Regions from separate parts of the Homo sapiens genome. Here regions 1, 3, 4, 5, 6 and 7 are each reported to be linked to region 2. The links are microRNA targets in miRTarBase. Many come from high-throughput screens and were not tested one by one. Region 2 holds a microRNA gene; each other region holds the end of a gene's coding sequence.

What was found. Region 2 holds the annotated microRNA hsa-miR-3663-5p (GCUGGUCUGCGUGGUGCUCGG, at 1,101-1,121, shown strand). A microRNA usually pairs through its seed, bases 2 to 8, with sites in the 3' UTR of a target mRNA and lowers its output. Matches are read on the target gene's strand: a 7mer-m8 pairs with bases 2 to 8, a 7mer-A1 pairs with bases 2 to 7 and ends in A, and an 8mer does both.
Region 1: miRTarBase lists SBNO1 as a target of hsa-miR-3663-5p. Seed matches in the 3' UTR shown: 7mer-m8 at 2,990-2,996.
Region 3: miRTarBase lists PAN2 as a target of hsa-miR-3663-5p. The part of its 3' UTR that is shown has no 7-base or 8-base seed match.
Region 4: miRTarBase lists NUBPL as a target of hsa-miR-3663-5p. Seed matches in the 3' UTR shown: 7mer-m8 at 2,414-2,420.
Region 5: the mRNA of HAUS2 is a reported target of hsa-miR-3663-5p. Seed matches in the 3' UTR shown: 7mer-m8 at 899-905, 7mer-m8 at 1,201-1,207 and 7mer-m8 at 1,342-1,348.
Region 6: the mRNA of THRA is a reported target of hsa-miR-3663-5p. Seed matches in the 3' UTR shown: 7mer-A1 at 1,197-1,203, 8mer at 2,122-2,129 and 7mer-A1 at 3,805-3,811.
Region 7: miRTarBase lists CCDC90B as a target of hsa-miR-3663-5p. Seed matches in the 3' UTR shown: 7mer-m8 at 953-959 and 8mer at 1,530-1,537.

Annotation. Positions count from the first base shown.
Region 1 is chr12:123,292,206-123,296,271 of GRCh38, reverse strand. It overlaps SBNO1 (strawberry notch homolog 1), which reads left to right. Exons shown (of 32, transcript NM_001167856.3): 32 at 222-4,066. The coding sequence ends at 364. Among named protein-coding and RNA genes, the nearest start is that of CDK2AP1, 22 kb to the right of the region's middle.
Region 2 is chr10:117,164,789-117,168,854 of GRCh38, reverse strand. MIR3663 (microRNA 3663) reads left to right here and starts at 1,081; the gene lies at 1,081-1,177. The region is part of intron 1 of MIR3663HG (MIR3663 host gene); the gene reads left to right. RefSeq lists an enhancer at 2,708-3,262.
Region 3 is chr12:56,314,219-56,318,279 of GRCh38, forward strand. PAN2 (poly(A) specific ribonuclease subunit PAN2) reads right to left here. Exons shown (of 26, transcript NM_014871.6): 25 at 4,019-4,061; 26 at 2,718-3,425. The coding sequence ends at 3,391. It overlaps CNPY2 (canopy FGF signaling regulator 2), which reads right to left and starts at 1,770. Exons shown (of 6, transcript NM_014255.7): 1 at 1,603-1,770; 2 at 912-1,024; 3 at 633-748. The coding sequence starts at 999. CNPY2-AS1 (CNPY2 antisense RNA 1) reads left to right here. Exons shown (of 2, transcript XR_002957416.2): 2 at 311-590. RefSeq lists enhancers at 1,755-2,343, 1,844-1,893, 1,974-2,123.
Region 4 is chr14:31,858,456-31,862,521 of GRCh38, reverse strand. NUBPL (NUBP iron-sulfur cluster assembly factor, mitochondrial) reads right to left here. Exons shown (of 11, transcript NM_025152.3): 11 at 1,298-3,404. The coding sequence ends at 3,342. Among named protein-coding and RNA genes, the nearest start is that of LINC02313, 84 kb to the left of the region's middle.
Region 5 is chr15:42,566,301-42,570,366 of GRCh38, forward strand. It overlaps HAUS2 (HAUS augmin like complex subunit 2), which reads left to right. Exons shown (of 6, transcript NM_018097.3): 6 at 307-3,694. The coding sequence ends at 516. Among named protein-coding and RNA genes, the nearest start is that of STARD9, 7.3 kb to the right of the region's middle.
Region 6 is chr17:40,088,906-40,092,971 of GRCh38, forward strand. THRA (thyroid hormone receptor alpha) reads left to right here. Exons shown (of 9, transcript NM_199334.5): 9 at 301-4,066. The coding sequence ends at 551. It overlaps NR1D1 (nuclear receptor subfamily 1 group D member 1), which reads right to left. Exons shown (of 8, transcript NM_021724.5): 8 at 3,888-4,066. Among named protein-coding and RNA genes, the nearest start is that of NR1D1, 9.6 kb to the right of the region's middle. RefSeq lists enhancers at 1,685-2,310, 2,311-2,937.
Region 7 is chr11:83,258,172-83,262,237 of GRCh38, reverse strand. It overlaps CCDC90B (coiled-coil domain containing 90B), which reads left to right. Exons shown (of 9, transcript NM_021825.5): 9 at 272-3,157. The coding sequence ends at 327. It also overlaps a transcript of ANKRD42 not described here. Among named protein-coding and RNA genes, the nearest start is that of CCDC90B-AS1, 26 kb to the left of the region's middle. RefSeq lists a silencer at 4,037-4,066.

The DNA.
Region 1 (4,066 bases), not on the chromosome of region 2:
TACACTAAACACATGCATATGCTTGGGTATTTGTGGGAAATGCTGTGGAAGAATCAGACTACATCTCAATGGCCATTTCATTTATTAGGTAGTCGTTTAATTTTTGTGTGAACTTCTTGTCCATTACGCTTAATATTATGCCTCATTTGGAATCTGCTGTGAAGCTGTACAGTGTGGTTTCTTCTGGACACAACTTGATAAATTCTTGTTACTAATTACAGGTTTGATCATTCCGGCAAATTGTGTGTCTCCTCTTGTAAATCTCCTATCAACTTCAGACCAGTCTCAACAGCTTGCGGTCCAACAGAAACAGCTATGGCAACAGCATCACCCTCAGAGCATCACCAACTTGAGCAACGCATGAAGAACAGACAGGTTTCAACATGGATGGATCTGAAATGCTGTTGAAGCATATCATTTGCATAAAAATCAGGGACAGTTTCCAAAGAATTATATATTTTTTTCAGTTGTGCTCTCTAGTTAGTTTTTTTGGGAGTAAGGACAAACCTGGAATAGATAGCAAAACTGAAAATCAGCAGTGCTGATGGTGGTACATATGTCTTTCCTTTAGCTTCTCCCCTGATAATTCCCATCTGCTTTTACTTCGGGTGAGCAGAGGGGGATGTGTGTGTGCGTGTGTGTCAGTCTGTTTGTGAGTGTGTTAAAGGCTACAGACCACAGTTGGTTTAAAATGCTTGGAACTTCCCAAACTGGCTTTACTTTATGTTTATACAGTGCTCAGGGTTAACGCAGTACATCCATGCCATTGCTGTGGGAGGTATCCCCGGATGCATGTGTTTTGAGTCTATAAATATAGAAAATATATATTGGTTTCTTTTTCCAACTTAATAGGTTTATTAAAGCATGAAATGAAAGGTTGCATATCATGCATTCAGGTTATTTTCTAATTTTTGTTCTGACAGTGCATGTCTTTGGAAGCATGCTGAAACAAGATTAACACAGGAGTCGAGTAACAGAGAGAAACATTTGTTAGATGTACAGCATTGGTTATTGCATTTTTATAGTGTTTATACCTGGGTATTGCTTCAAACCCTGCAGACCCCTCCTTCCCCTTCTCCCTGCCCTGGGTTTCTGGTCAAGGTAATGAATACATACATTTTTCTGTGATAAAACTCTTAAAAGTTAATTTTAATGTATTAATAGTATTCCTAATGTGTGCTGCAGAAATGGCTATGAGCCTCTTAAATTTACATTTGCAACTTAAAGGTAGTTTTAGAAGGAAGTACAAATTGGCTTTCATCTTGCAAACAATCGTTTTTTACTTCATTATCTTAATTTGCTTTGTCACTCATAAAAAGGAAACCATACCTGAGTTGTAGACAATGAGGAAACACTTGAGGCTTCTGCTGTGTGTTCTTTTGTTATTGTTGTTATTGTTGTTACTCAGTAACTTGAATATTGTTTAATGTGTTGTAAGACGTAGAGTTTATCTCAAGCTGTTAAAAATGGTAATGTACAAATGTGAATAGACACTTATCTATATAATATGGGTAAGTTTTGTTTCGCCTATAATAGATGTTTATAAAAACAAGTGAGGGGACAGTTGGTCTTTTTATCTTTTCTTTCTTTTTCTTTCTTTTCTTTTTTTCTTTTTTTTTTTTTTTTTTTTTTTTTTTGCTTCCACAGGTTGCACTATTGAAAAATCGAGATTGTATAAACCTGGTAAAAAGCTGCAAGATGCCAAAATCTTGTAGATGTCAAATAAAAAGTTATTATACTAACAAGAAGTGGACTCTTGTTTAGGCCCTCACTGGTGACCTTCAGAAGTAGTCTGTGACGGGGACTCAGCAGAATTTGTGTGTTGTCTCAGCATTCCAGGTAGCCTTATAGTTTGGCTTAAAACTTATCCCTAAAATGTAAGATGGCATTGAGGGAAAGGGTATAATGATAGTACTTCTGAATGTTTTTTAAGTTGAATTGTTTGTAAACTTCTTGCAGAATTGGGTGAGATGTGTGTTAAAACTGACAAACCTGGCTGAAAGCTTAGGGCGTTCATCCTCTTGTGTCTCCTTTAGCCTGAGTTTGGTTATGTCAAGCTTACCGTAAGTTTTCTTAGGATTTATTTATTCTTGGTGCCTAAAAGAATAAATTGAAAGTACTTTCTGTTCTTTGGCACATTTTGCCCAGCGGATGCAACTTCTATCCTCAGTCCAGTTCATATATCTCAGGCAGTGATCCATTTTGTATCAGCCAGTTTCCCTTGTTAGGGCCGCTAGACCCGGCTGGCAGCCAAGAGCAGCACTCTCCCCACCTTCAGCAGAACTTCTCAGCTCATGTGTGTGTTTTTAAAAGCAGTAGGCAGCTTCCATCAGCAATGGAAGTGTCCCCCACTCCAGTGGTGGAGGTGCAGTCGCTGGACCTGAGGAAGTGGGGAAGCATTACAAACCCTCCTGCAGTAAGAATGGCAGAGTTGGGAAGGATCTTCTCTCGCAGGCTGTTGGCCCAACTCCTCTTTTCTGTGTATGAGGGCATCTTAGTTTTTTATGGCGTTTTCAAAGCAGCATATGAGGATTCTTAGCATGCAGCTAAGTGACAACCCCCATGGCCTATGATGTAATGTTTGCTCTGGACTAGCCATCTTGATAAATAGGAGTGTATGTATCTTAGGTTCTTTGTAGAACAGCTATTTTTTTTTCTCATTAAAAAGGCCTCTGAAAGCCCTCTCAAAATGGACCTCACAAAGGCAACCAGTGTGAATGGATGGGAGCTGGGGTGCTGCATGCCCAGGCTGGTCATGGTGTGTGCAGCACCCAGAGAGTTGCACCCACCCCTTCTTCAGGTGGACATCCGACCTTTACACTGTGGTCTTGCAAAAATCAGCGAGTTAGTTTGGCCGCCCTGTGAAGCTTCAGCATTCAAGGTCCTCTTCTGTTAAAACCCAACTCGTAGCCGGGCGTGGTGGCTCACTCCTATAATCCCAGCACTTCGGGAGGCCAAGGCAGGTGCATCACTTGAGGCCAGGAGTTCGAGACCAGCCTGGTCCACATGGCAAAACCCCATCTGTACCAAAAAATACAAAAAATTTGCCGCTGACTTCTGTAAAATAGGTCCATTCATTGCAGGATCTAAATGCCACACCTGAATTCAGAGGCCTTGTTTAATTAACCCCATGTCCACTTTGCCTCTGCAATGCCTTTTTCTTTTTAGCAATATGGCTCTGAGCACAAAGATTTGGTTGGAAATCATGTTCGTGTTTTCAGAGTTTACAGCGTCAATTGTACTGAAAACCACTTCCAGAGTCTAAAGCAGCTCAGATGTTATCTCTGGGGGAATTAGTGTTCCCCTCATTTAGCAACCTCCATACCACAAGGTCTCTGTCTGTAGTTACTGGGATTATCCAGATACACTATCAATGATACAAATTCATAGGAGTATTAATGCATTTCTTTAAACACAACTTGATTAAGAAGCAAATATGTTAAGCAGTTTTCTTTTTCTGCTGCTAAATTACAGTTAGACACTTCAGTATCTTCTCTTTACATGTGTATATAAATTAGTAAGAACCTGCATCCAAAGCAATGTAGTGTGTGTATGTATCTATATATATTTATTCTAACTCAGCACTTCAGAAGCCTTTTTGAGTTACAACAATATTTTAGTTTGCCTCATCTGTAGAGGTAAAATTTCTATATTACCAAGCTCCAGAGGAATATGATATTTTACAGGCACAATTTTCTGGCTGTAGTCCCTGGGGCATTCATTTGCTGGCCTCCATGGGATGCTGTTAGAACAATTGTTAGCCGGCAAGAGAAGAAAGGCTACCAGGACAGCATTTATAATTGTAGAATGGGAGCCTTCTTCCCTCTCCCCTCCACTTTCATTTTAGCATGAGATAAAAAAATAGATTGGAAATGATTGTTGCATCTCACTTCATGGAAGTAGGGGCAGAAGTTCCCTCTGGATCCTTTTCTTGACAAGCAGTCAAGAGGAAGGTCCCCATACACATGTACCTGTGTGATACTTGGTAGTTTCTAAGAATGGTGCTACATAAGCGTTGCTGTTAGGCTGGGATCCTATTAATGAACGTTTGATTAGTTCAGGCCTC
Region 2 (4,066 bases):
ACTGCCGAGAAGGTTGCGGCGCATTGGCGGTTCGGTTCACGGGACGCGGGCGTGGGGTGTGTGGGGTGGGATGGTGTCGGGGGCGGGGGGGGGTGGACAAGAGGGTGTTTGGTGGTGGTTGGGAGTCCCGGCGATCTTTTTAAAATTCAGATGCCAACAGTTCTCCACCCCTGAACTTGAATGGGCTTTGGGTTTTTGTTTATTTGGGGCTTTTCTCCTCTTCCAAAGCACAGCGCTTGCCCCCAGCGGCCTGGCGTCGGGCTGGAGCCCGGCAGAGGGAGGGAGGAGACCGGCATCCGCGCTCGCTGATCAGAGAGAGCCGGGCCTGCTGCTGGGGAACGTGGAGGGGCTCCGGACAGCCACGCGCCCTGGCCGGTCACGGAAAGCTCTGAGGGACATTCGGTCGGCCGTCGGGGAAGAGGCTGGCCGCCGCAGCGCGAACTGGGGGTGCGGGTGGAGCGGCTAGAGGCGCCGGGGTGAGTGGGGATGGAGCCCCGAGGGCGTGGTGCGCGCTCGGCTTCCTGCCGCCAGGGGGCGCCCACAGGCAGAGCCGGGCGGGGCGGCAGCTACAGAGAGAGGGGTGCGTGGAGAGCGACCAGGCCAGGCCTGCAGAGCGCAGCCCCGGCGCCATGTCTCCAGGCTCGTTCCGACTAGTGTTGGGTCACCCTCGGCTCAGCCCCGGGGGAGGACGAAAGGGTTGCGTGCAAGGCCTAGCACCCAGTGGCCATTCATTAAATACGTGCTGGCTGACGAGCTCAGGAACGGCTCTAGGGAGCAGCTGGCTCGGAAACCTCAAGTCCAAGCCCACTCATTCCCGTCTCCCTCCCCGACGGCCTTTTAGTTACCGTGCCCTGGGCCGCGACGGCTTCCTTTTAGATTGGGGCAGCAAGGGAGCCCCTGCGCAGCGAGGACGCCGACGGGGCGGCGGGGAGGGGTTGTCCGGCGGTATCCCCGCTCCGTGCTCCTCGCCTTCCACTGCCTCCCCGGGACACAGCAGTCATGGCTTCGACTGTGACTTCTTAACTGGCTCCTCCCTGATCGCTGAGCTAAGCCACAGGAGAAGGGGAGGAGGGCTTCCTTCCCGGGACCTTGGTCCAGGCGCTGGTCTGCGTGGTGCTCGGGTGGATAAGTCTGATCTGAGCACCACACAGGCCGGGCGCCGGGACCAAGGGGGCTCGACAAGAGGATCTCAGAACAAGCTGAGTCTCTGGAACTAGCTGGGGTGCGTGGAAGTACGCGCCACGGCCCGCGATTCCTGGGAGCGTGTCTCAACTTCTGCCAGTGCCAACGCAGGAGAGAGAATTGCGGCTCAGAGAGGGTAGCGTGAATGGAAACCGAAGGGCGAGAGCTTGGCTCTCTAATGCCACCCAACTTAGTGGTTCAGAGCTTGGCCTCCAAGGAAGATTCAGTTCAAGTCCCCGCTCTCCAACTTACCAGCTGTGTGATCTTGGGGGAAGTTAACCTCTCTGAGTCTGTTTCCTGCTCTGTAAAATGGAAATTTAAAAACTTAAACATCTACTTCGGTCGAGGCTGTTGTGAAGAAGTGGGATTGTGGGTGCATAGCTCTTAGCACAGTGCCTGGCACAGGTTAAGGCTGGATACGTGGCAGCTGTGAGGCCCAGTGTTCTCGTAGCTGGCCTGGCCAGATGCAATCATAAGCGAAGATGACTCACTTCCCACAGCAGAGGTGTGCGAAGCCCTGCGCACCTGCTGTAGTCTGCACCCGGGCAGAAGAGAACCCAGGAGCGTCGGGACCTCCAACACTCAGCCCTCAGGGCTGAGGACACTGCGCTGTTTCTGCCCCTTCTAAAACCGGAGGCCGCGATGCCCCTGTGCAGTACCGGCTGGCGCCCACCCTACAAGCTGATTCCTGGGGGCCTTTCCTGCAGCGGACGCCGGCAACCATCACGACCGACCTTGACTGAACACATGTGGGCATCCTAAGGACATTACCTCAATCCTCACACCATTCCTGAAAAAAAAAAAAACAAAGAAACTGGTGCTCAGAGAGGCGAAGTAACTCACTCAAGGTCACACAGCTAGAGGGTGGCCAAGCTGGGACTCCAACCCACTCTGGCTCCGGAGCTGGCGCCGCTTCCTTCCTACCTCTCTATCAAGCTCAGTCTCAAAGCCTGGGACAAACCATCCGGTTGGGGTGGGAAAGGCCACGCACGTCCTGGGGTCGAGGACCCTGTGCCCACGACAGCAGTCTTCTCGGCACCCGTAGAAGCCAGTGCCAGACAAGTTGGGTTGGAAGGGGCAGGCTGGGCTGGCGGAAGGGGGCTCTGGGCCCCGCCCTGCCTGCGCCCCCCGCGGATCACGCCTCCGTGCTCAAGCTCCTGCCAAGTTTGCCCCCATCTCTCAGGTGCCCTTGGACTGAGTGACTAAGCACCTCGGCACCTCTCCAGCCTGGGGTGCGAGGAGGGGCTGGCCCTGATACCCACTTCCTTTCTTCTCTGGAAAGCCAAGGTGCCAACGAAAGATGCCCTGGAAGCTGGTGTTCCTTAAAGAATGAACAGTCCCAGCTCCAAACGTGTCTCTCTGAACGCAAGCCTCTTCCTTCCGTTCGCCTGGGCCTGTAGTCGAAGTCTCCTTGGGTCCCCAGCCCCCTCCCGGGTAGACGTCAGCCTGGAGGTGGATGCCGGAGTCGAGAAGGGTTGCGGACCATGCTGGGGACCTGGCTCAGGCAGTCAGGGGTCCGGGTCCTCTTTGGGGAAGTGAGCGCTTGAGGAGGAGGGAGAAAGGCTTTTGAGTACGGCTTGGGGGGACTTCTTGAGGTCCCTCGGGATAGCTTCTCTGTTAGGCGTGTAGCCAGGAAAGGAGAAAAAATCTGTCCCGCGCAGCCCAGGGAGGAGCCTTGCAGCTGCGGAGGGGGGCACTTTCGGCGCTGGATACCAGGGGGCAGTGCTGCGCAGCGAATCTGCCGGGCTCCAGCCGGCAGCCCGGGGCAGCAAGTTTGCTGAATTCCCTCTGTCTCTCGAATCCGCTACGAAGTTCCTCCCAGGGCGCTCCTGACGCCAACAGCCCCCTCGCCCCGTAACATGCGAAAGAGGGCACGGTCCTCTCTGTCCGCGCGTTGCCGTCGGTGCGGGCGTCCTGGCTGTCTTTCCTTGGTAAAGGCAGCTACCACCGGGTTGGTTTTTGACCACTGACTTGGCCCTAGGGAAACGTAAGGTGGGGTGGCGGGGTGCCCCGTCGGGTTTTTGCAGGCCGTGTGAGCAACCTCAGAGTAGAGGTTTGAGGGGACTTTCTCAGCCTGGGCTGGAGCCCCCAAAAATGCAGGCGCCGCCTTTGAGAGGAAAAAAAAAAGCGCTGGAGGTTGGCCGCCTGCATTTGATCGCCTTCCGAGTTTACGTAGAAATCCATCCGAAGAAAGGTCCGATAGAAGGCGGAGAAGGCGGAGGCCCACCCCTGTCCAAGTACGAGCCATCCCCAAAGTACAGGGATGAGAAGGGGGGCTGAACCTTCTCTCCAGGACCCAGCGCCAGGCCCACTACACCCCCAGAATCGGTGTTGTTTGGGAAATGCCTTTCTATCCTAAAGGAGGCTGTGTCCAGGCTTAAAATATGCAGAAGCAGTGAGCAGACGGGACCCGGTGACGTGCGCGGGGCTTTTCCCACCCAAGGGGCTAGGAACTCCACTCCCTGTCCCGTCCCGGGGAAAGAGACCGAGCACTCGGCTCCGGGGCCAAATGTGAGTCCAGGAGCTTGGTGAAATAGAAACCGGACATATTCTCTTTGGACTCGGCCTCCTTTTGCTGGGATTTTTGTTTTTGGTTTCTCTCTCTCTCTCTCATAGCGCTTTGCAATACATAAAATAAAAACGCATGTCTGTGTGTGAATGCTTTGCCCGTTCTTTGAAGAATTCACACTTTAAAATTGCTTTCTGTGAGCGCAGAGGAAGAACATATAAACCACCGTTATGTAATTTGAAACCATCAATAGCCCCCTTTTAAGGTTGTCTTTATTGTGGGAAGTCAAGGTAATGATTTTGTCGCTGTCTAATTTCATCCCAATGTATGGCGTTGCTTTTATAGCCTTTCAAAGGTAAGTGAAAGGCATCAATC
Region 3 (4,061 bases), not on the chromosome of region 2:
GGAGTGCAGTGGCACAATCACGGCTTACTGCAGCCTCGACCTCCTGGGCTCAAGTGATCCTCCCACCTCAGCCTTCCAAGCAGCTGTCACTACAGGCACATGCCACCATGCACTGCTAACTTTTGCATTTTTTTGTAGAGTTGGTGTTTTGCCATGATGCCCAGGCTAGCACTGTAATCTTAACACTGCCTTATATATTGCTTATTAGATACACCTTTGTGTACATGTGTGTTGTTTTCGATTAAAATTTCCTAATTATGAGGATAAGACCTTTTATTCTTATTTCTGTTTTTTCATTTTTTATTTTTAGCTCCGACTCAGATTTTGAACGGATGTTTGCATGTATACCACAGTGCTACATTAAAAACCAGTCATGTGGATGTGGAGAAGGGTGCTGATCAGGACTCCCTGTTTGCTAACAAATTCTACAGCAGAAACAAAGTATTAAGGTTTGCAGCCAGGAAGCAAGTGCATGGGGAATAAGCCTGCAGCTTCTTCCAAATGAGACAGAGCCAAATCTTTTTTCTGAGTCTGTTTTCTTCATTTCTATTAAACCAAGGTCCTTTTTAAGCAGTCGAATTTCATCCAAAGCCAGAGTGAGCTACTTTGTTTGGGGGAACAGTAACAGTTACCTCCACCACTGACTGGCTGCCATCTGGATTGATCCGGAAAGATCCCATCTGAATGGTCTTCTTGGGGTCCACCTGGGCAATTTCCCATTCTAGTTCATCCACCAGAGCCCTGCATGCTGGTGGAAGAGGAGAGAATGAGAGCAGGGGACAGGGTAGGGGGTAGGGTGTGAGGAGAATGGGATCAACCCAGGATTTCCATTCATCCTTCTCCCAGGCCTTGGATCTCATGCCCTCCCAAGGCTCTGCTTCCTCCACTTCTTTTTCCCGTTGTGCCTTTACCTCCACAGTGGAGATCCTGGCTCCTCCGAGCCCAGGCGGTTCCCAGCAGGGCCCCCAGAAGCAGGGCCAGCCAACCCCAGCCTTTCATCTTTAGCGTAATGGGGTCGCTCCACCTGGGTTTGAGTGGGAATAAAACATAAGTGTGAGGAGCCGACTCCATTTTTCCCTGACCCCCCCAATCCTCACCCCAAGGCTTTCAAAGGCCTCATTGTGACTCTGGCTCTACTTTCCAGGAAATGGCCGGGACACAAAGGGGCTTCTCTGTTCCAGCGCTTGAGGGCTCTGATTCCCCCAGGGTGGTGGGTGGGAGCGCGAGCTCAGGACTTGCGGCTCAGCCCCAGACTCTACGTGGATAGGTGAGGCCCTAAGTGTTGGTACTTTAGCACTGCATGCCTAGGGTTCACGGGGCTTTGTGGCAGCTACAGGAGGTAAGTTGGCGATTACGTGAGGACTACAGGCACTAGGGAACTGCCGGCAGGGAGCCCTCAGTCAGGCCAGGAGGCCAGCGAGGAGAGCAATAACTAGGGCCCATTTGGATCCTGCACCGAAGATTCCTGCGTCCCCACCTCCAGCCCGTAAGTGATTACCCGTACGGACACCAGCCCCCTTTCTAAGGACTCCGCCATTGCTTTCGCTTCAGTCCATCCCCAACCCTCAGCGCCCAGCGCCTCGCCGCCCGCATCCGTCCCACCTCTGCTCCCAGGGCCGCCGCCGTGGCCCAAGCGCTGGAAGACCGCTGGACTCTCACTTTGGCCCCAGTGGCTCCCGAAACTACACCTGGCTGCAGGGAGCAGGGCTGTCCGGGATTCTCCAGAGCGCTTCGCCGCCTGCCACACACGGGGTGTCCCGGCGACCGCCTGACCCAGCTCCCCTGACGCTAACTGGTACCTAAGCGGGACTCCAGCGTGCTGCGGTGCGAGCCCCAATCAGACACCGACCCCAAACCCGCCCCTCCAAACTCTCGCGCGAACAGGCAGCTTAGGAGAGGCTCCCGAACAGCAAGGACCCCGGTCAATCGCCGAAGGACCCAGACTTGCGTGGCGAACAGATCCACGTGACCACCAGGGGTCAGCCGTAGAATAGGAGTGGCCTTAAGCGACGACAGAGTCCGGGCGTGCTGTATGGGAGCGGCTAGTCGTGCGCGTGAGCCAGCCCAGGTGGGCTAGGACCTTCAAAACGGTGCGCTGCCGGCCAGCGAGCAGTCCAGGTTTCAATACACAGGAAACTACATCTCCCAGGAAGCACCGCAGCACCGGACCCATCTTTGTGAGCAACTACAAGTCTCAAGCTATCCTGGGACCTGTAGTTTGTCGGCTTACACAATTAACGGAAACCATACTGTACATCTTCAGTCTGACTTAGGGTACTGGGCAGCTATAGCAAAGACCCAGCATTGCCCAGAAAAGGCATAAATTATACCTTTTTCCCCTTTTTTTGAGACGGAGTCTCGCCCTATCGCCCAGGCTGGCATACAGTGGCGTGATCTCGGCTCACTGCAACCTCCGCCTCCCGGGTTGAAGCAATTTTCTGCCTCAGCTAGGGTTACAGTCGCCATCCACCACTCCCAGCTAATTTTTGTATTTTTAGTAGAGACGGGGTTTCACCATCTTGGTCAGGCTGGTCTTTAACTCCTGACCTCGTGTTCCACCCACCTCTGCCTCCCAAAGTGCTAGGATTACAGAAGTGAGCCACCGCGCCCGGCCTAATTATACCCTTTCATATCCATAACTTTGGATTCCGGACCTTTACCTTCAAAGGAAGGAGAGGAAGACTGAAGCCAGAGAACCCACACTAGCAGTTCTCTAATGAGATAAATAACAAACGATATTTTATTTTTATTTTATAAAACATGCAGTTTACAACAAATTTTTAAAAAATGGAACAAAACTTGGGACAGGCAAGTGGGATGGAAGACAGATGCTTCTCAGCCATCAGCAGGAATAAATGAAGCCGGCAGCCAAGCTTTGTCCAGGATCCAAAGGCCCTTTTGGCAATGGTATTGGCAACACTGGTTTGCTTGGGCCACCAACACTCTACTTGCTGGCCCCTCCAGGTATCCCTGAAGCAGTTGGTGACTTGTGCTAAGTCTTGAACTACTGTGGTATCCTCTGTCACTGTCCAGGACTTCAATCCCTAGCCAGCTAGGAACTTACAGTTATGGTTCCAGGAGCTTCTCTGCCTGGATATTAGTCACCCAGGATATTAAGAATACCAATTACTTTCCATCTGGGTCAATTCTAGACTCCATGTCTGTACCACTGTTTTGCAAAGAATGAAGAAGGAATGAATCTGGCTCCTAGAACCTTTGCAACAATTCTGCTGTGTTCCAGTTCAATTAATAGCACCATCTGTGACCCTAGACCCTGAGCACGTCCAGTACTGGAAGTGGACAAGGTATAGCCAACTTAGGAAGCCATCTCCCAGTTCTGGGGCTATAGAACAGTAAAGGGAGAGGGCCGTGGTTCTTTGGGAAGGGTAGTCAGAGCGCCAGCACTGAGGAGAAGACAGCTGCATCTGTCAGAGACAAAACCAAAAGCATGATTCAAGCTGAGTGGAGAAAAAGCATCTTCTCATACTTCCTATGAAGGAAAAATGCAAGAGAAAAAAGGGCATGGACCTTCCCTGAACATTTTAGACTTGGGCAAGAGGAAGTTATAGTTAATGGAGAGTTTCGATAAAATGTATTTTACTGAATGTTAGGAGGATGAAGTGCTTTGTAAACTGTTAAGTGCTATTCTCCATATGTGCAATCAAAATCCACCCAATTGGGGGCGCTCAGGCTCATGCCTGTAATCCCAGCACTTTGTGAGCCCAAGGTGGGTGGATCGCTTGAGCCCAGGAGTTTAAGACCAGCCTGGGCAACATGGCAAAATCCTGTTTCTACAAAAAGTACAAAAATTAGCTGGGTGTGGTGGTGTGTGCCTGTTGTCCCAGGTACTTGGGAGGCTGAGGTGGGAGAATCACTTGAGCCCAGGAAGTCGAGGCTGCAGTGAGCTGTAATCACGCTACTGCACTTCAGCCTGGGTGACAGAGTGAGACCCTGTCACAAACAAACAAAATACAAAATCCACCCAGTCCAGTTTCCCTTGTCCCATCCCAGGTCTTACTCTTGGGACTTGTTTGGCCCTCAGGCTCAGGCACCTTCCAGTC
Region 4 (4,066 bases), not on the chromosome of region 2:
TTTTTTTCTTTAGTCTGTTTTGCTTTACTGTTTCTTCTTGAATCTGCCATACATTGATTGATGTTCAAATGTTGAACCAACCTTGTGTTCCCAGGAAAATGACCTTGTAGTCATATGTATTATCCTTTTATATAATGCTGGATTCAATTAAGTAAGATTTGTTGAAGAATTTTCTGTCTATGTTTATGAGGAACATTTGTCTGTATTCTTCTTTTCTTGTATTGTCTTTGTCTTTGGTTTGCATATTAGGGTAATGCTGGCTTCACAAAATGAGTTGGAAAGTGCCCCCTCTATTTTCTGGTAAAGTTTGTGTAGAACTGGTATTATTCCTTCATTCAATGTTGGGTAGATTTTGACAGTAAAGGCATCTGGGGCTAGAGTTTTCTTTGTTGGTTCTTAACACAAATTATATTTTTAAAAGTAATTTATGACTACTCAGTCATAAATTATATTAAAGGAATATATCTATTCCATAAGTGAGCTTTGGTAGTTTCTTTCAAAGCATTTGTCTATTTCATCTAAGTCTTCAATTTAATGGGCATAAAGTTGTTTGTAATCTTTCTTATTGTCCTTTTCATGTCTGTAATAATGTCTCCTTTTCATTCCTGATTTGTTGATTTATGTCATCTTTCTTTCTCTCATTTCTTAATGAGCCTGGCTAAAGGTTTGCCAATTTTGTTCACCTTTTCAAAATATCAGTCTTTTATTTACACTCTACTGAGATGTGAAGAATGGAAAATAAATATCACTCCTTAACAAACAGGCAAACTACCTGTACTTCAGTCTACCTTTGGAGTTGGTGGCAAAATTTTAGAATAAGCTTAGTTCTTGTTTTATAGCTACTGTTCCTTCCTCCATGTCTAAACCTGCATATATATTCCAACCGCCATTTGTTTCAGTAGACTTCCTTGAAGCATCTGCAGACAACAGTCAAAAGAAGGAGGAGAAGAGGGCAGGGAATTTTATATGTGGATCTTCTCTCGGTCATGTATTTATGAGTAAAGACCACCTTTCCCATTTCCCTATGATATGTATTAAATGGTGACATACAACTTTAAGTCATTCTTTTTTGAAAAAAGTTAAGTTTGGTTTAAGTATTTTTTGTATTCACAAGTGCTCAATGATCATCTATATTTTCTTCTTCCTCAACAGACAATAAATACACAAAGAATATCTGAAACTTTAAGTCATTACTTCCTTCTCAGAGTGATATGATTACAGTGTGTCCACAAATAATTTTATTCATGATATTAATTAGTATAATTTGGTCCAGTAAATTTCAGTTCAGATATAGCAGTTTGTGTTTTTTTAACTTTTATTTTTATTTTGAGATAATTGTAGATTTACATGCAGTTGAAATAATACAGAGATTCCATGTGCCCTTCACCCAATTTCCCCCAGTGGTAACATCTTGCAAAACTATAGCACAATATCACAACTGGGATACTGACATCGATAGCTGTGATATAGAACATTTCCATCATCACAAGGATCCCTCATGTTTCTCACAGCCACGCCCAATTCTCTCCCATCCTCACCCCCTCCTTAACACAGCCACCACTAATCTGTTCTCCATTTCTATAATTATGTCACTTCAAGAACGTTATATAAATGGAATCTTTTGGTACAAAACCTTTTTAAATTGGCCTTTTTCATTCAGCATAATTCTCTGGAATTATAAGTTGCTGCCTGTACCCATAGTTTGTTCTTTTTTATTGCTGAGTAGCACTCACGGTATGAATGTACTATGGTTTGTTTAATCATTTACCCAATGAAGAAAATCTGGGTTGTTTTTGGTTATTACACATAAAATTGCAATAAACATCAATGTACATGTTTTTGTGTGAAAACATGCTTATAATAATGTGAAACTCTATGCCTAATTTTCTAGTTGACAACTGTAGAGCAACAGATGTCAAGACATTTGCCAAAAGTGACAGACCACTTCTTTATAAATGCGAATTAACTAATGGCTCACACTTATCAGTACTTGCAGCTTTAAAACTATCTGCTACCTGACTTTGAAAAGTCATTGACTCTATCTCTTTGAGCTTCAATTAGACAAGATAAATGTTTTTCAAAATGTATTATTTGAAATGTGAACTTCATGAAATGCTCTGAAAAAGGAGGGGGGTGGTGGATTTCATGGCCAAAAAAAGTTTGAGGAAATGCTAAATATTGCATCTCCCCCGACTTTTTTTTTTTTTTTTTTTTTTTTTGAGATGGAGTCGCACTCCATTGACCAGGCTGGAGTGCAGTGGTACAATCTCCACTCACTGCAACCTCAGCCTCCCGGGTTGAAATGATTCTCCTGCCTCAGCCTCCCGAGTAGCTGGGATTACAGGCATATGCCACCACACCCAGCTAATTTTTGTATTTTTAGTAGAGACGGGGTTTCACCATGTTGGTCAGGCTGGTCTTGAACTCCTGACCTCATGATCCACCCACCTCAACCTCCCAAAGTGCTGGGATTACAGGCGTGAGCCACCACGCCTAGCCACCACCGACTTTTTTTAATTAACAAAAGCACATTGGTGTACAAAAAGATGAATCTAATATCGAATTACTCAAGTTCAAATCCAAGCTCCATCACCTGCTAGATACAGTAACCCTCAGCAAGACACTCAAGGTTGAGTGCCTTCAAATTATATCTCAAATTACTTATCTGTAAAATGGAGATAATAGTACCCACTCACACAAATGGAAGAACAATTATAATTAACTTGTTAAATGTTAGCTATTATTCTTACTGCCATGATTACCAGAATCATCATCAACATCATCATGGTCTTACTAAAAATACATATGTTCAGGCTCCACTCCTGGAGACTGAAATTCATTAAGTCTGGGGTATAGTGTGATCCAGATGAAGAAGCAGAGGTTCATATTAAGAACATGTCCAAGACAGTACCAAAGACAGGATTCAAAGACAGTCCAAATTGCCTGGTGGGAAGGCGTAATACTTATGCCCATACACAAATTTAGTATATCATTTAAATTACTAATTCTGTGGTCCTGCAAAAAGTGTACAGTTCTCTCCCAAAATGGACTTGTAACATCATAAACTCGTGATTTCTAAAGGGGTAATTCAATAAAATAAAATGCAGTTCTTTGCAGGTGGTACACACCAGCTTTCAAAAAATTCCTAAATATAGCAGTTAACATTGATACATCAAAGTTTTGTGAACCTTAGCTTAGCAAGTCAAATATGAAGACATTCTTTCCTTAGAAATAAAACAGTTATGATTTCTATTATTTCTGTAGGTTCCATCACCACATTGCTGATTTCCAAAGGTCCTCTTAATGTCAGTACCAGGCAAATTTCCAGGACACTTGGGGAATCATTCTGAAGGTGATGGCAATCTTCTTACCACTTCCACAGCAATCCTCAAGTAAGCTTTGGCCTGGAAAAGAACAAACTTATTTGTTCTGTATTTCTCTTCAGCAGACATTGAATGACTCATCAACTGTTTGTTATAGAGGCCCACTGTATTTGATAGTAAAAAGGCTGAGTGAGATGAGGAAATTCAGTATTGAGAAGATAGTGCTGTATATATTGCAGGCGGCACAAGGAAGAAAGAATTTTAGATTATTTGGAGGGTAATTATTTGGAAGGTGACTCTGAAGTAATATTTAGTACCAGAAATTACTGTTTTTCAAATTCTAATTCTGGTGTCAGCAAACTAGCAACCCAGTCTAGTTGCAGAGAGATTACACCTTTTTGCTCTGAAAAATTGATATATTGAGTTAGAGACTGCCAAAACTTCTTTAGCATAAGAGCTGTTAGTCATTTTAAGGAGGACTATTTATTACCATGCTACAGTTTATCTTAGGAAAGCATTTTCTTCATCTCCCCGAGAATGGTGTGTAATACCAGCACCAAGCACCTATAGGCTCTTTCACCTGGTAAAAAATGGATATCATGCAAAAAATCCTAGTTCCATTGTTACACTCTTTATGTCTGGGATCCCAGTGTCATGGGACACTAACAGCAGCTCTTAAGCCACAGAGTGGGCCACAAGCTAACCTAATGCCTGCATGGTAATGATATTTGCATTTTAAGAGT
Region 5 (4,066 bases), not on the chromosome of region 2:
ATATTGAAGGTACATCCAGATAGAGATTACCAGTAGTCTTAAATGTGGGCCTGAATTTTAGGAAGGAAGTTAGGTTTAGCAATATAAATTGAGGGTCATCTGCATTGAGTGATTATTGAAGACAAAAGAGTTGAACTCACAAAGAGTAGGTTTGTACTGTAAGAAGTGGGAAAGCACAGTTTTAAGGAGCTTTTGAAGTAAGGGGCTGGAAAAAGATCATGTGTTAACCTTTGGTATCAGTTACTGATGATATAATGAATTAATAAGAGACATAATTTCTCCTGTTTCCCTTTTCAAATGTTACAGAACCAGGCTTTAGCAAAGATGGATATATTGGTGACTGAGACAGAAGAACTGGCAGAGAATATACTCAAGTGGCGTAAACAACAAAACGAAGTTTCGTCTTGTATCCCCAAAATATTAGCTGAAGAAAGTTATCTTTATAAACATGATATTATAATGCCTCCTTTACCTTTTACTTCTAAAGTTCATGTCCAAACTATTAATGCCAAGTAGTCATCAACTTTATTTTTGCTTAATTATGTGTAGTCATATGAAGTCTATTTCTAGTTGACTGTAACATGGGTATTAATAGTCTTTGCTGCTGGTAATACTGAAAGAACCTGCTTTATATTGGAGTATCAAGATCTCAGGTTCATTAAGACCAAACTGACTTTTCCTTTGTTTTTCATATATTTTTATTCTACCTTTCAGTAAAACTAGAGAAGCTAAAAAATAGCCATGACAATTTATTAATATAAGTGAATTAACCATTTCTCAGGTGGGAAATTCTCTTTTTTTAAAAATGTGTGTTTATCGTCTGGTGTGGTGGCTCACACCTGTAATCCTAACACTTGGGGAGGCTGAGGCGGGCAGATCACTTAAACCCAGGAGTTCAAGACCAGCCTGGGTAACATGGTGAAATCCCATATCTACAAAATAAACAAAAAATTAGCCGACCATGGTGGTGCATGCCTGTAGTCCCAGCTATTCGGGAGGCTGAGGTAAGAGGATCACCTAAGCCTGTGAGGTCATGGTTGCAATGAGTCATGATCACGCCACTGCGCTACAGCCTGGGCGACACAGTAAGACCCTGTCTCAAAAAAAAGAAGTGTGTTTCTGGCCAGGCACGGTGGCTCACGCCTGTAATCCCAGCACTTTGGGAGGCCTAGGTGGGCAGATCATGAGGTCAGGAGTTCGAGACCAGCCTGGCCAACATGGCGAAACACCTGTCTCTACTAAAAATACAAAAATTAGGCCGGGCGCAGTGGCTCACACCTGTAATCCCAACACTTTGGGAGGCCGACCCAGATGGGTGGATCACCTGAGGTCAGGAGTTTGAGACCAGCCTTGACAACATGGTGAAACCCCATCTCTGGTAGAAATATAAAAAATTAACCGGGCATGGTGGTGGACGCCTGTAATCCCAGCTACTTGGGAGGCTGAGGCAGAATAATCGCTTGAACCCAGGAGGCAGAGGTTGCAGTAAGCCAAGATCGTGCCTCTGCACTCCAACCTGGGTGATGGAGCAAGACTCCATCTCCAAAAAAATAAAAAATACAAAAATTAGCCAGGCATGGTAGCATGTGCCTGTAATCCCAGCTACTCAGGAGGCTGAGGCAGGAGAATCACTTGAACCCAGGAGGCAGAGGTTGCAGTGAGCCCAGATCGTGCCACCGCACTCTAGCCTGGGCAACAGAGCAAGACTCTGTCTTAAAAAAAAAAAAAAAAGGTGTTTCTGAATTAGAAGGGTCTTCTTGAATCTGAAAATGTCTATGATGATTATTCCTGTGGGAATGTCACTAAGTATGCAGAAAAGAGTAACACAGCCAGCCTGACTTATCCTTTGAAAGGCCTGATTATAAGGTTTGTCCTCAGCTGTTGCATCTGGGAACTTAGATATCAGAAGGTATCTTAGTCTGTTCTGCTGTCATAACAGAATTACACAAACTAAGTATTTTATAATGAACAGAAGTTTATTTGGTTGACAGGTGTGGAGGCTAGGCAGTCCAAGAACATGGTGCCAGCATCTAGTGAGGGTCTTGCCATGGCAGAAGGCACCACATGGCAAGTGAGCATGAGAAAGATATATGGGTCTAAACTTAGCCTTTTATCATGAGCCCACTCCCAAGATAGCAGCACTAATTCATTAATGAGGGCAAAGCCCTCCTTACCTAATTACTTTTTAAAGGTCTCATAACACTTTTACAATGTCAATTAAATTTCCAACACTTGAACTTTGGGGGACATATTTAAACCTTAACAGGAGGGCTCCACTCACTGAAAAGAGTCGTTCATGGTAGCTAACCTGTGGTTTGTGCTGAAAACCTGCTTTCTTCCTGGGAGTCTAGAATTTTGGTACATGGTAGGTAGAAGGTACCTACGTGACCAGCCCCCAGTAAAAACCCTGGGCACTGTATCTCTAACAAGTTTCCCTGGTAAACAACATTTCTCACATGTTGTCACAATTCAGTTGCTGGTGGAATGAAACAACAGATATGTGTGACTCCACTGTTAGAGGACTCTGGAAGCTTATACCTGGTTTCCCCCAGACTTTGCCTCTGTACCTTTTCTCTTTGCTGTTTTGCTTCATATGCTTTTGCTGTAATAAATCATAGCTGTGTGATGATATGCTGAGTCTTGTGAATTCTCCTAGCAAATCATGGAACCTGGAGGTAGTCTTGGAGACCCTGGCATACAAAGCAGTTCCTAAGTGTTTACTGGTAGCTGTAGGAATAGGCAAAGAAGAAACAGCAAAGAAAAAGGCACACTGTGGTATAACTTTGGAGGTTTACCTTGCAAAATGCTCAGATATTTTACCTATCAGAGGTTATTGTGCATATAATAGAGAGTGATATACTAACAACTGCCTCAGGATATACTCTTTTTAATCAGTATTGTAACTAACCTTGGCTTATTTTACTTTTAGACTTGGGGTTCTATTTTGCTTTAAAACATGTACATCAGTTTTGTTTTTTGTTTTGTTCTTTTCTTTCCTTTTTTTTTTTTTTTTTTTAAAGACAGGATCTCACTCTGTCACCCAGGTTGCTGAGAGTGTGGTGTGGCCCAATCTTGACCTCACTGCAGCCTTGACCTCTCAGGCTCAAGTGATCCTCCCACCTCAGCCTCCCAAGTAGCTGGGACTATAGGCACGCGCCACCACGCCTGGCTAATTTTTGTATTTTCTGTAGAGACAGAGTTTTGCCATGTTGTTGAGGCTGGTCTTGAACTCCTGGGTTCAAACGACCCTCCCGCCTCAGCCTCCGAAAGTGCTGGGAGTACAGGTGTTAGCCACTGCGCCTGGCCTCATTGTACTCCTTAACACAAGAAGACTTCAACAATGATAAGTAGTTGTTTATAAGGAAGCAGGATCATTACCAAAATAAATCCTGCTAAAACAACAGGAATCATGTTTTAAAGCCTAGTTTGCTAATTTTTGCTAGTAGGATAAGAGTGATCGTAATATCTCGAACATTACATAGACACTTAAAACCTTTAGTTGTATTTCATCAAAAATCTGTTCATACCCCACGTTGGTTTCAAAACATACTATGCTTTTTCTTCGTGTTATTTCCTATATTCATTTTTGTGTGTATGTGTATGTCACAAATATTGATATGCCTGGTTGTTTATTTTTGTTTTCTATTATGCCTTTTTCAAAATATAAAAATAAACTTGTAATTTCTAACTAAAATTTTTTAGTCCTAGTCTGAATTTAAAGTGATAGAAAGGACTGATGCACTGTTTAACTTATACAGTATAGGCATATAGGCTCTCAGAATCAAAAGAGCTTGAGGTAAGTTAAGCCTGAGGTCTACTTCAAAGAGAAAGCTAATTTAATACTCTTCCAGAGTCAATCAGTGCTGATTAATTTTTCTTTAATTATTCAACTTTTAGATGTGTGGATATTAAAAAAAAATTAGCTCTGCATGCCTTTTTTTGTTGTTGTTGTTGTTCTTGTTTTTTAGATGGTCTTGCTCTCACCCAGGCTGGAGTGCAGTGGCACAATCATAGCCCACTGCACTCTGAACCTCCTGGGCTCAATGGATCCTTCCACCTCAGCCTC
Region 6 (4,066 bases), not on the chromosome of region 2:
CTCAGTCCTCCCCACTCCAAGGCTCCTCTCTCTCCCCCAGCCCCCGGCCTGTCCCTCTGTCCTCCTTGCATTGCCCCCTCCCCCCAGTACCCCCCTGCCCCTCTCCACTTCCCAGCTGCCTCCCTCTCCCTGTGCTTCTCCTGTCCACGTCTCTCAGGGGGAGCTTCTCCCCTCCCCTCCCCCAGCCTCTCTGCCTCTATCTCCCCTCTAGTCCTTTCTTCCCACGTCCCCACACCTCACCCTCCCCATCTCCAGGCCTTCGGCCAGCCCCTCGCCCCTCACGCCCCTCTTCCCTCACAGACCGCTCGGGCCTGCTGTGTGTGGACAAGATCGAGAAGAGTCAGGAGGCGTACCTGCTGGCGTTCGAGCACTACGTCAACCACCGCAAACACAACATTCCGCACTTCTGGCCCAAGCTGCTGATGAAGGTGACTGACCTCCGCATGATCGGGGCCTGCCACGCCAGCCGCTTCCTCCACATGAAAGTCGAGTGCCCCACCGAACTCTTCCCCCCACTCTTCCTCGAGGTCTTTGAGGATCAGGAAGTCTAAAGCCTCAGGCGGCCAGAGGGTGTGCGGAGCTGGTGGGGAGGAGCCTGGAGAGAAGGGGCAGAGCTGGGGGCTGAGGGAGACCCCCCCACACCCCTTCTCTCCTTCCTCTCGTCCTTGGATAGATTCAGCTCCCACACACACACCCGCACTGCCCAGGTCCCTCCTCAGACCTCCAGCCCTGGGACAGGGCAAACAACTGAACTTGCTATGGAAAGGACAGTGTGGGAGGCTGGGGGAGCTGTGTCCTGCAGTTCCCAGGACCCCATCCTCTCAGAAGGTAGGGGAAGGGCGGGAGGATTGAGAAGGGACAAGCCACCTTGACCGTAGGGGAAGGAGGAATGTGGGCTGGGGGAAGATGCCCTCAACTCACCCCCTACACACACATGAGAGAGAGCCCCCACCCAGTTCCTTGGCCTAGGTCTCCCCTCCAGGCTGAGGGCCTCTCTACTTCCCCAGATGCCTGGGTGCAAAGAACGGCTTGGCTTGGCTCCTCCTCTGGAGGTTAAAATTTATAGTCATTCTAACTGCACTTTGGAAACCAAGCAAGGGGAGAAGACAAATGAAGAAAAACTAGACAGAGAGAAAAATACAAAAAAGAGAGAGCGAGCGATAGAGAGAGATGATATTAAGTTATTAACTGAGGCTGACCAGAGGGGAGGACCCCCCCTTTACCACCCCATGCACTTTGCGAGCTGCCCCTTCTTCCCCCACATCAGAGAGAAATGCCCCCACACCAGAGCCCCAAGGGTAGGGCTGCCGATCAGAGCTGTGAGTTAACACAACAGGGTCCTGGCCACCCCCCTTGCCATACCCCGCCCTCTGTGCCCCTTTGGCACCCCCCAACCCTAGTATGTCCTCTGCTTTCTGCCACTCGTGCCCGCTGAGTTCCATCTACCTCTCATGCTGGATGCCAGCTGGCCCCTCACCAGCCTGCCCTGCTGCCCACACAGCTCCCCTTTAAGTGCCCAGCCCTAGGGGCCTCTCCCCATCCACCTCCTCCTTCCACACCTTGGCACCCACCCAGGAAAAAACTGTGGCTCCAACTCCTACCCTCCTTATATCCTGCAGTATTAGCTAGAAACCGGATGCTGCTGCATTGGTTGGGTCGGGGGTAGGAGGGCTGTGCGTGAGCGTCTCCCAGAACCCTCCACCCCTTTAGCACTCTGTTTCCCTGTTTCCCATCTGTCTTCTGGGCTCTCTCTAACCTCTGCCCTCCTCCCCAGCTCCTACTCACTGCACTAACTCTGGGCGGGCAGGTACCAGAATGGGGGTGTTTAGATAAGTGACACTTAGTTGGGGCCCCAGGGGAGGGGTGGTCGGTGCTCCTTTTTCTTTAAAGCTCTTTTGGCCAGCTGCCCCTCTGCCCCGGGACCCCTTCCCCTCTTCTTTTCTCTAATTCAGGGACTTTGGCTTGAGCCCCTCTCGCCCTCCTGGTGAGGGTGCTCTGTTGGTCTGCACTTGGGTGAGCTGTCCTCCTCCCCCTCCCTGTGGCTGCCGCCCACTCCTCAGGGGAGAGAGGGAGAGAGGAGGTGGTCCTCCCATGGGAGCAGGAGGTGGGGTGGGACAGAGCAGACCAGAGGGTGCTGGGCTCAGGGCTGCATGTCGGCAGGGATGGATGGGTGGACACAGATGCCCCCGGAAGCCATGGGGATTGGGGCAGGGGGTGGGGGGAGGGGTGCCAGGGCTTCCTGCGCTTTGCACTATTGGGGCAAAAATGTCTTAAGCAGTGGGGAACCTGCCACCCCACCCTGACCCTCAGCCTGCCACAGCCCCCTACACACACACACACACACACACACACACACACACACACACGGACATGCACACACGGACATGGGAAGGCAATGCTATGCTGCCCGTCAGGGCACTGTCCTTCCCCAATCGTTCAGGTGTTCCAACAGGGGTGGAGGGCCTGGAGGAGCACCCGCTGTCACCTGTGCATGTGCCTGTCCCACCCTGCTGGGGCCTCGGGCTGCCCGCGCTGTCTTTGTCTCTATCCTCTCTCTCTCTCCTGGAGTACTGAATCCTGTATTACTCCAGTCCCATGGGTAGGCCCTCTTGTACCTTCCTACCACGCCTGGGGGCCCAGTGGAATTCCTGACCTGTCTGCTGTCTTCCCCATCCCTCCATCCCCACCCCAACCCCTCCATCCCCATTCTCAGCCATGGACACGGCAGAGAAAAGGCCTTGAAGAGCCTTAGCCTCTTATAGGCACTTGGGACTCCCCCACCCTCCCCAATCATATGAGCTGTGATCCCATCCTCCCCGGACCCCTCCCTTCCCCCTCGGTGATGTGGGGTGTATGTGTGCGTTCCTCTGCGTGAATGTGTGAGTGAGTACACATGGTAGGGGAGGAGCCAGGGCGACTCAGGAGTGCCACGCACCTGCTCTAGAGCGGCAGCTGTCCCAGTCCCTGCTGTGGAAGTGGGGGACAGGGCCCTCTCCTGGGGGCCATTGGTGCTAATGAGGGGGATGGCCTTGATGTGGGTGCTCAGCATGCCTCCCCCAGTATTGGCCCGGGGCACTAGGGCAGGCAGGGTGGAGCAGCAGGTGCAGTATCGGTGGGAGGACGGGTTGCTGGGAATAGGACGAGGGGGCCAGGCCAGGACAAGGGGTTGCCAGAGCCATGACCACTACCCCGCCCCCACCACCCGCCTCTCCATCTCAGTATTGCCCCTCCCATCACTCATAACACACATACCTCATCCAGCCTCCTCCCTGCTCAGACTTGGGGAGGGTGGGGGAGGAGCCCCTACCCCTTCTCCTGGTGGCGGGTCTGCAGGGCTGGGAGAGGGCAGGGCGTTGTGAGAGAGAGACCGTCCATAAGGAGGACAGTAACTCCTGCCCTGGGAACTCCTGGGCGGGGGGGAGGGGGACACTGCCCAGAGGCGCTACTGAATGTATGAGAAGCTGGTGCTGGGCTGGGGGGAGGGGGGTTGTGGCCAGAAACAGGGAAGGAGGTAGGTCTCTTCCCCAGGGAGGGGTGGGACCGGCAGGGGTGACTTGAGGGGCTCCTACTCCTGCCCCACGTTGACAATCAGTATGTCTGTTATGTGCGATTTTTCACCCCGTTGTGTTTTGGGTCAGGATTTTAAAGAAAGATATTTTTATGGTAATTGTTGCTCGTCTATTTTACTATATATTTATGTAATAAATATATGATGAAAATAACCCCCTTGGGCACCCCCCTTAGACTTGTGTGCTGTTTCCCTATATCCTCCCATCTGCTGGCAGAGTACCCACCCCACAAACTGACCAGATGGAGAGGTGGCCCCCCCCAGCCTTGGCAGTATTTCCACCCCACCCCCCAAACGAGCACACACCACAGAAGCCAGCTCAGCTGTGAACTATTGGATTTGAGACAGGAACAGAACAAATCAGAGGGCCAGGGGAGGGTTGTGGGGGAGACAGAGTGGTTTAAATAGGGGAGGAGGGGAAGTTCGGTGATGGGGGAGGGAGGCAGGTATTTACAAGAAGGCTCAGGGGGCCAGAGGCTCATCTTGGAATATTTTATA
Region 7 (4,066 bases), not on the chromosome of region 2:
GCTAGCGTTAATGATTTTAAATACAGGTTATAGGTTTCTAAATGACATAATTTACATTTTAATATACAGGTGCTTTTAAGAAGAATTAGGCATTAAGGCTGCCCTTAAGAATGTCTTTCATACTTAATTGTCTAGGGAATAAAAAACATAGGATAGAAAATTGGTTGGATTTCCTGTTTTTTGCTCTTCACTTAAAGATAACATTATTCTCTTTATCTCTGCAAAATAATTACAGATACAAGACCTATAACACAGTTTCTTCTTTTCACAGCTTCGGTGTTTACTTGCCTGGCAATAGCATTGGGATTTTATAGATTCTGGAAGTAGTATTAATGCTCATCCTGCTGTGGCTGTTGGCTTCTTAGAACACCAAACCGGGAGAGATTTACTTTGAACATTGTCAGTTGCAGCAAAAATTTACTACACAAGATTATTCGAAGTGTATACGGACTAAAAGAGGAAGTGTTTTAGAATGAGAAGAGATACTGTGTCTTTATTGTGTGTGTGTGAGTGCAGGTGTGTGTCTTTATTATATTGAAAAGCTGTCACTCAGACCTGGTTTGAGATAGAAGAGCATTTTGTCCTTTTGATAGTTAATAGAAATTGAACCAGAGTTTTCTTATGTTTGCTTGAACAGTTGTGTAAATCATACAGGATTTTGTGGGTATTGGTTGAATATTTGTAAACCATTCCCTAGCCTACATATTTATTACTGAATTAACTTTCCTGATAACCATTGCATAATTACATTTTTCTATAAAATGAAAGATTATTACAACAAAGTTGTGTGGGTTTTCAAAGTGACTTACCATATAGTTGGAGATTGATTTCTTTTTGGTAATGAACTAAAACAATAAATTTTAAAATGATAGGCCAGGCGCGGTGGCTCACACCTGTAATCTCAGCACTTTGGGAGGCTGAGGCGGGTGGATCACTTGAGGTCAGGAGTTCTAGACCAGCCTGGCCAACATGGTGAAACCCCGTCTCTGCTAAAAATACAAAAATTAGCCAGGCATGGTGGCACATGCCTGTAATTCCAGCTACTCGGGAGGCTGAGGCAGGAGAATCTTGCAGTGAGCCGAGATAGCACCACTGCACTCCAGCCTGGGTGACAGAGCAAGACTCCATTACCTAAATAAATAAATGTGTGCTTTAGTGCAAATTACAACACTTAATATGAAATCTGTAGAGTTGCTAAATATTGAGCTCTGATTATTACATGTATTTTTTAAATATTTGATACTCAAAAACCAGTTTATCCCTGCTTCTTAATGTAGTTTAAGTTAACCCATCTTAAATTTATTACATAAAACAAAGCTTTTCTTAATGACTTCAATTCAGCAAACATTGATATCTAGTACCTACTCTCAAGAAACTCATAGGAAAATTTAAATTCGTATTTTGTTTTGTTATTAGATATATTTTTTCTTACAAAGTAATATCTATTAGTAAATCATATGTAATTTCAAAGAAATTTTAAAATATCCTTTTCATCTTAGTTCTTCAGTCTTACCCAGATCAAGAAGACAAGACCAGAAAGTAAACATTTTGAGTTCATAATGCCTTGGTAATAGCTATAAAAGTTTGACAATCATTATTCAAAATAGCCTTGTCATTTGTTTAGCTATAAACAGGGAATCTGCAGTATAGAGCAGTCAAGAGATTGGTCCATATGGTCCAGTGAGTGAGAGTCAGGCTTTCCAACTATATTTTCCTCAAAAATCTAACTGCTGGTTTGTTTTCAAAAGAAAAACCTTGACATTATCCTGTTACATTCTGATTCATTTTTATCTCTATTGCCTAAGAGAGTTCTTAGTATATTATAGATTAATTTTCACTGAGTCAATTAATAAGTTACCATATATATTAAAGTCCACTGTAACAAAGTATACTGCATTTGTTCAGTTAACCAATATGACTGCCTGCTATATGCCAAACAGCATGCTAGTCCCTGTGTGCACAGAGATGAACATGGTTTCATTCTCATTGAATTGACAATCTTAAGGAGAGAGACATAAACAAGTAAATTATTGGTTTGTTAAGATTTAAAATATTCTAAAATATTAAGAGGGAATGCGTCTTTCCTCCATGTGAAGGAAGCTCCAGTAGCATAACACTGTCGTCACTCTTCATCCCCTTATCCACTCTGCCCTAGGTAAAGTGACTTGCCCAATTGTAAATCTGGAAGGAGAAACAAGGTGCAATTAGCCCACTTCCTCCCCACTCCTGTTTGGGACCAGCCCATCTGAAGAGACATTCATTCTGTTCTGCTTCTATGGGATCAGGCTCTGCCTCTGCAGGATGAGGCCTGGCCCAGTAGAGCAATGCTTGAGACAGGGTAAATCTGTCCAGTTCTAGAGTTCAGTGATAAGAAGCTTACTGGCCTTAAGATGAAACCCATATTCTCTTGCTGAGCACAGTGGCACACATCTATAGTCCTAGCTGCTTGGGAGGCTGCGGCAGCAGGATTGCTTGAGCCAAGGAGTTCATCAAGGCTAAAGTGTACCATGATCATACCTATAAATAGTCACTGCACTCCAGCCTGGCAACACATGAGACCCTGTCTCCTAAAAAAAAACTTCTCCAATAGTTTTATCAGCAAATAAAGGTGTTTTTTAGGCCTCTATATTAGTTTATTCATTCTTCATCTTAGTTATATTCACAACCCAGAATGGAAAGGAGGTATGCCATTTATTGGACCTTCTCAAGCCCCAACAAATAAATATACTTATTCCCAGGTTATACAGCCACTAAATATTAAATAGATCTGCGTTCTTTCTCATTGTAGGGGTTTAGCAAACAAAGTGCTTTGTATCCAATAACAGAAGAATAGAAATATGCATACCATACCCTGTCCCCATTACTTTTAGATCCTATATCCTTTCCATGAAACTTCATTTTGATGGTGGTTCTGGGGTTCAGGTAAATTTTTGTTTCAGTGATGGAAATATATGAAATAAGGATGAGAGGATTGTGTTTCTATATGCCTTAAAACTATACCTCTATTCCAGCACTTGCACTTCACTATGAAACAGCAATTATACGTATCTTTTTCCTACACTAAACTACAAGTTCTCAGAAGGCCTCTAGACACATGTGAGGTACTTGTTAAACGCCTGTGGAATAAATGATACTCATAAATCTCAGTTGACCTTAATCCAAACTTTTTAATATTTTAAATATTTAATTATGGGTATGCTGAAAATACTGCATTCATACTGAGTGAGCGTAATACACCTTTTAGGCATTTTCTATGAGTGGTAAGAAGCCTCCACAAGGATTAGCTACTTTCACCATGTTTATAGCCACAGTGTAGATCCTAACCTGCCTATCCATACTGCTTTGGTGACAAAATAGGCCAGGCAAGAGTATGTAAGGACTTGGCAAGAGTCAGGAAAAACCCTCACCTATTGGAAAAACAATTAAAAGCTTATAATGTTGTCAAACTTGAAGAATTTGGATATGTAACACTTGTTTATTTTTTAAGTATTTTTTAATATTTAAAAAAAGGGCAGTGGGAAAGGCTGTAGTCATTATCACTGAAACTACTGATTGCTATTTTGAAAAAAAATAGCTATCATTGACTATATGAGGGCAAATATGCTAAATAACATATATGTGCTCACCTATTTTCACAGCTCTCCTCTTAGGTAGATGGTATCCTCATTTTACAGCTGAAGAAACAAGTTTAGCCAAGTGAAGTAACTTGTCCACAGTCCCCCAGCAAGTAAGTCACAGGGACTCAAGTCTTTAACTCCAAATCTCACCCTCTCATGCTGTCACTCAATATACTAGTAGGGTTCAACCTGAGTACTCTTTCTCATGAGATGGACAATCTACTAAGTCATAGGAACAAAATAACTTAAATCTCTTTAATAACCTTTTTTTTTTGTTTCATTAACCTAAATGTGTCAATAATATAGGTATATGATTTATGAATAAATATACACAATTTGGGAATTGTATTATAATTTTAATTTAGCTGCTGTAACAAGATCCAGAATAGCAGTGGCTTAAATAAGATTAGGTTTATTTCTCTCTTACAGTCCAATGTAAGCATTCTAGG